Homo sapiens: one gene and its partner. The protein of the gene in region 2 purifies or fractionates together with the protein of the main gene of each other region. This does not show direct contact. Each region holds a gene or a part of one and is shown on either strand. Other genes may lie near its edges.

Region 1 (2,945 bases), on a different chromosome or scaffold from region 2:
CTTCATATGCAATTCATTGTAACTATAATTTCTAATACTGAGAAAGAAACAATGAAGCCATTCAGACTAGAGAGACATAATTGGCTTGTGGGATTTTCAAGATGTTTTATTGACTATCTAATTTGAATCTACTTACAAAGAGAAGAAAAATGTCTAGTATGTAAAGCAATGAATGAAAATAAATGTTTATCCTAAGTCATTATTGAGTACAAATCCACAGCTTAACAATGTGTTTTTAACAGCAGGAGAGCATGCAACTGCTCTAACACACAGGGTCAGAAATAAAAGGTAAAAGTACATTTGTTTTGTAACTGTAAATATACAAATATAAAATTTACCATATCTACCCTGTAGTGTGGCACTGCTTAACTGCCAAATATACAGTCATTCAAAAACCTTAAGGAAACATTGAAAATGTCTCAGGCTACTTTACTGAACATTAACGAATATTGTGTTCTTGAGCTATTAGAGCTAAAAGTATTATTTTTAAAGTTATATGAGCAAGGGAATAATAAAAGTATCATTTCACGTGTCTTTTAATCCCATAGACGGCTTTTTGTTAAAGGGATTAATTATGTTAAAAGGAAACTGATTTGACAAATAGAAACCAGTTCCAGAACCAAAGTTGTCCTCTTGGTAGAATGTCAAAATGTATATTATTTCCAAAGTATTTTCATTATTAATCTACTCAAATAATTACAAACAGTTTAATCAAGGGAGTCACTATTTAACACTTTTAAAATCTACACTGGCAGTTGGAATGGAACTTTTACAATGCTATTAAGGAACAGTTCTCTAGACTTTCATCTGCCCCTCAAAGTGACATCCCTGTTTTATGTTAAATTACCGACCTCTAAGGAATCAAAGGCATGTAGAGACACAGAATTGATATTTTGTTTGGGGAGAAGGGTAAAGATTATGTTGGAACATTTAGTCCCTTCTACAATCAAGTCCTAACTATACCATAATAAAGTCTCAATCAACTCCTAATTAGTTCTTCCCCTTCAGGAATTACATAGTATACAGTGATTAAATGCTGAAGAAAATAAAGAAAAACAATTGAAAATACCTGAAGAAATACAAACAAGAGATTTCTCACAAGGCCTTGGATCAAAAAAAAAATTTACAAAAAGATCTTTTGAAAATAATCACTATTTGTGAGCTTATTAATACACACAAATCATCACTTTGTTCAAATTAAGTCATGTTAATTTACCAATAAAATAGTAAACAAACCAACATTTTAAACAATTTTATAAATTACTCGTTGTTCCTTTTGTTAGTGTTTCTTTCTCAACAATATACAAAAATAACACTACAGGACTATCCACCTAACCTGTCTCCATCTCTTGCAAAGTCCTGGGACCTGGAAAGAGGCTGGTCCATCAATCTTCACTGTAGATGTCTCCCGCAAAGGGCAGGTGCATGTGGCTGCCAGTGACATTGGGCAATCGAGATAAGTCTGGCAGGCTCTGGATCCGGGACCTGAGTTCTTTGCGCACCAGGGAAACTCTGGCTAGCTTGCGCTTGTACTCCTGTAACATCAAACCACTTTCATTAGCATTCAGGGATTGAAAAAACTTCCTAGCTAATAATGACCTACATAAACCCAGGTACTATATATACTCAGTTAATGCCATATTTAAAAAGGTTATTCCAGTGTGAGTTTTCACATCAAAAGATGAGCTTTGGAAATATATAACTAGTAAACTATTATTATTAAGAAAAACCACAATCTTTAGCTGTTGCTTCACACCAGTAGAAAGAAGACTAACATTAATGTGCTTAACCTCGACATATAAGATGTTCAGGTATTCTTGAGTTTGGGCAAGAAAAATTACATATTTATTTTCATAAACCTTAACTAAAATTTGGCAAGAACATCTATGAAAACTCAGTAGGAATGGCCAGAGTCTGTGGTGTCTGAAGCAGGACTGCTCCCTTCCTGTGCCCTCCCATCTAAGCAAGGAGGGTCCACTCCAGACTGCTGCAGCCAAGAATACAGGATCACTCTCCCTGCAACTCCCAGTGGGAGGGTTTTATTCCCAGAAAGAGCGCCTCTCATCCTACCCCAACTACCTGGTGCTGAAGCTAAGTCCTGAGATAGAGCAGGGAAGAGCCTGGGGACTCCCTCCTGTCCAGCCCCCACTCCTGGAAAAGAAGTTCCTTCTTATGCGTGGAGGACTGAGAATACTTGGGCCCTGATAAGCCTCACCCCCAACTCATGAGGAAGGTGGCTCCACAGCAGAAGAGGCAAGCCAAGACAACCTCAGGCTGCTGCACCCCTCCCTTTCTCCAAAAGCTCAGCACCCACAACAGGGTATCACTCAGAGAAAAGCTTCCCACTATACCCATCTCAGTTCCAGGGTCCTGACTCAAAGATTTGGTCTAAGGAAGTAGCAGGCAGTAAAATAGATATGTCCATGGCAATTCACTATTACCACAGTGCATGGCACAAGGCAGGGAGATTCACGCTCTTTCCAAATGTGGTCACAGGTAAGTCCTGAGAGGACCATCCTAGAGAGTGCATAGATGAGGAAACATCTAAGGAAGAAACCCAGCTAGGAGTTTACTGCAACTCTCCAGGAAAGAAAGGACTAGGGCCTGAACCGAACCAAACCAACAGTAGTAAGGATAGAGCAATGTCCTTTAAAAACTACATTATATGTAAATAATACCTTAATGTCAAAGACTAAATGTTTAGAAAGAAAAATCAGCAGGAATTGGTTGTGGTTCTGCTGTGAGGAATAATGAGGGTTCAGGCTTCATAAGCAGGTGGATATCGGAGCTGTTATCTGAGATAGCAGAGAGGGGCACAAACTCCTTTGGAGAAGGATACAGAGTTCATTTTTAAGCATGATAACTGTGAGTTATCCATGGGATTTCTAGTAGGCACTTGGAAATGTGATTACAGTATTCTGAGCTACAAATAAAGATTTAGGCTT
Region 2 (3,827 bases):
AGGGCTCAGCAAGAGAGCACTATCTCCCATGTGGATACAGTTTGCTGTTGTCTTTGTTTTTTGTGCCTCATCTATGTACCTGTGATGCCACCTCAGATGGTCTATGCCTGGTTATTCCTCAGGCTAAGAGGGAGAAAGCTGTTGCACTGAGGAAGTACTGAAGGCTGACTAGGAAGAGGGAGGCAAACTAAAAAGGGAAAGCTATGTCAGGAAAACAATAGAAATTGAGATCAGGAATGGATGGCAGCAGGGACAGTCAAAATCTTGGCTAGGAGAAGAGCACAGCAATAGTGCCTCAAGGCTCTGGACATTCTATATCATCAAGGAGGCCCAGAGACAGGGCAAGGGGATAGCAGGAGGAGACAGACGTCTCTGGATGCAAAGAAAACTTAGTTGAAATTAACAGTGTTAATTTCTACATGCAAAGGACACAAAAACCTATTGGTGGTGACTATAGTTAGTAACAATGTGTAATATTCTTCAAAATCACTGTGGTAGATTTTAAGTGTTCTCGCCACAAAAAATACATACGCGAGATAATGCATATGCTTATTAGCTCTACTGAACCATTCTGCAATGTACACATATTTCAAAACATCATGTTGTACACAATACATGTAATTTTTTTTTTTTGAGACGGAGTTTCGCTCTTGTTGCCCAGGCTGGAGTGTAATGGAGCAATCTCAGCTCACGGCAACCTCCGCCTCCCGGGTTCAAGCGATTCTCCTGCCTCAGCCTCCCGAGTAGCTGGGACTACAGGCATGGGCCACCATGCCCAGCTGATTTTGTATTTTTAGTAGAAATGGGGTTTCTCCATGTTGGTCAGGCTGGTCTCGAACTCCCAACCTCAGGTGATCCGCCCGCCTCGGCCTCCCAAAGTATTGGGATCACAGGTGTGAGCCACTGCACCCGGCCCTGTAATTTCTATCTGTCAATTTAAAAAATAAATTAACAAACCAAAAAAGAAAACAAACAACAAAACCTATTGCGAAACATGGAACACCTAAAGAGAACTTGAAAAATCATGTCAGCTGCACATCGTGGCTCACAGCTGTAATCCCAGCACTTTGGGAAGCCAATCAGGAGGATCACTTGAGCCCAAGAGTTCAAGACTGGCTTGGGCAACATAGGGAGACTCCATCTCTATTAAAAAAAAAAAATTAGCTGGGTGTGGTGGCACATGCCTGTGGTCCCAGCTACTGGGGAGGCTGAGGTGGATCACTTGAGCACTGAAGGGCAAGGCTACAGTGAACCATGATCGCACCACTGCACTCTAGCCGGGGCAACAGAGTGAGACCCTATCTCAAAAAAAAAAAAAAAGAAACAATTAAAATAAGATTAAAAATAATTTTTTTGAAAGAAAAATCATGTCAGAATTTGTGGGCGTTTTGTAGGATGTGTTATTTTCAAGGCAAGGTATGCCAACAAACTCCAAGAAAAAGCACCCATTACTGCCTATAACCTTGGGAAGGATGTTGAAACCACCACTAAAAGAAGGTACAGGTTCCATGTCCAATAACTCCCTCCCTCCCCATAACCCAAGAAGGATGAGCCATTCTATCCATACCACTGCAGGAGAGGATGGGCCAGGGGATCCAACTTGTCCATCTGTTTCTTGATTTCCAAATATGAGCCCTGTAAGACAATGGCCATAACGTTATCTCCTTGGAGAGGTGGGAGCCTACCTGCTTTCTGCTTTTCACAGAGTGACTATTAGGGTCCAGGGCAAGGTAGGCACCAAAGGCCACACAGAGGAAAAAGGAGATAGGGTTCCCACCCTCAAGGAGCCCTAGTCAGGCTGGGAAGACTCATAAATAAATATGAAAATGACTGAAGATGCTTACAAAACAACATGCAGGTGGGTCTCCCTCATTTTATGCAATTCCTACAGCCCTAAAAAGTTGATTATAAATCAAAAAATAAATAAAATCAATGTCCCAAGAAGATTAGGCTAAGGAATCCTGTGGTAAATCTTTAAATAATGCAAAGCGTCCTCCTGACAAGTAAATCATTCCTCCTAGGTGTATCTTATGTGTAAATCTCAACTGTGATATACAGGATTTGCTGAGAAGAGGCCCACCTGTAAATGAGTACAAATGAATGTCTATTCATGCAGAGATTGCAGACGAGGGGTGGGGAAGTCTGGTGAGGGACAGCCTTGAGTCAAAGGATGGTCACCGCTCCATGTGGCTGCCCCACCCCTAGAAGGATAGAAGATGTAGGCCCCTGTGTCTAGTTCCTTACCTTCAAGCCCCCCTCCTCCTCACCCTCCCAACCCTGGGCAGAGGTCTTTCCTTCACTTCTTAACTCCCTAAGAATTATGGCAAAACATTAAATATGAACAACTTGTAAAGGAATTAACAGCAAAGGTAAAGATTGAGACACAAAGACTAAAGAGAATAAAGAGGAGTAACAGAGCTAACAAAACAGAGAACAGGAATTGGGAAGGTTAAAGAGGAAAGACTAAAAAAAAAATACAGTGCGTAGCATCTCTAAATCTTCATCCCACTCCCACAAATTACCAACAGAATAGGACACTTGAACTGGGCAGGCAAAGGAGAGGGGACAGAGAGAAGGCAGAATACCTGGGTCATCTCCCGAATAGACATCACACTATCCAGAGCTTTCTGAAGCCGCTCATAATTCTTCTTCTGTGGAGAATCAATGGGAAGAGAAGAACCAAATAAAGAAAAGTAGAGGAAAGTAAGATGTGATGAAAAGGGGCTAGATGTACCAAAAAAGTCTAGGCCCTAGGAAACAATAGTATGTCATGGAAAGAGCATTAATGTCAGACAGTTCTAGGGGCACATGCTAGTTCTCTTTTACCAGCTGGGAGTAACAGGGTAAGTTATTTGGCCTCTTAGAACCTTTAGCATCCCTTTATGCAAGTGAAGATAACTCCTATCACCCCCATAGAGATGTTCTGAGGATTAAATATCATATATAAAGAACTCTGTATAGTAATGACAGTAATAGTGAGGTACTATGCTGGGTACTTGTGATGGTTAATTTTGTGTGTCAACTTGACTGGGCCATGAGGTACCCACTCATCTGGTCAACCATTATTTCTGGGTGTGTTTGTGAGGGTGTTTCTGGTTGAGATTAACATTTGAATCAGCAGACTGAGTAAAGCAAATTGTCCTCCCTAATGTGGAAGGGCCTTATCCAATCAATCGATGACCTAAATAGAACAAAAAGGCTGACTCCTCTGCCCCACCCCGCCATGAGTTTGTAGAGTTTGTAGGTATTCCTCCTGCCTGATTGCTTGAATTGGATTATCAGTCTTTTCCAGTCTTTGGATTTGAACTAAAAAAAAAATTGGCTCTTCTTGGATGTTAAGCCTTCAGGCTTTCAGACTAGAACTTACACCATTGGCTCTGATTTTTTGGTTTTGTTTTTTTGAGGCAGAGTCTCGCTCTGTCACCCAGCCTGGAGTGCAGTGGTGCGATCCTGGCTCACTGCAACCTCTGCCTCCTGGGTTCAAGCGATTCTCATGCCTCAGCCTCCCAAGTAGCTGAGATTACAGGTGCCCACCAACATGCCTGGCTAATTTTTTGTATTTTCAGTAGAGACAGGGTTTCACCATGTTGGCCAGGCTGGTCTTTAACTCCTCACTCCAGTCAAGTGATCCACCCGCCTTGGCCTCCCGAAGTGCTAGGATTACAGGCAGAAGCCACTGCGCCCAGCCCACTCTCTGATTTTTCAAGCCTTGGGACTGGGACTACCACTGTACCACTGGCTCTCCTGGGTCTGCAGCCTGCTAACTGTAGATATTGGGACTTCTCAGCCTCCATAATCATGTGAGGCAATTCCTTATAATAAACCTC

Evidence for each region.
Region 1: the proteins of PARP6 (region 2) and RPRD1A fractionate together in Homo sapiens (co-fractionation; one large-scale study listed by BioGRID). This does not show direct contact.

What each region holds. Positions count from the first base shown.
Region 1 is NC_000018.10:35,991,766-35,994,710, forward strand, and holds part of RPRD1A (regulation of nuclear pre-mRNA domain-containing protein 1A), read right to left. Parts: intron 1,536-2,945; coding exon 1,386-1,535; 3' UTR 1-1,385. UniProt on the Homo sapiens protein: Interacts with phosphorylated C-terminal heptapeptide repeat domain (CTD) of the largest RNA polymerase II subunit POLR2A, and participates in dephosphorylation of the CTD by RPAP2.
Region 2 is NC_000015.10:72,251,870-72,255,696, forward strand, and holds part of PARP6 (protein mono-ADP-ribosyltransferase PARP6), read right to left. Parts: intron 2,652-3,827; coding exon 2,586-2,651; intron 2,202-2,585; exon of another isoform or gene 2,081-2,201; intron 1,636-2,080; coding exon 1,568-1,635; intron 1-1,567. UniProt on the Homo sapiens protein: Mono-ADP-ribosyltransferase that mediates mono-ADP-ribosylation of target proteins.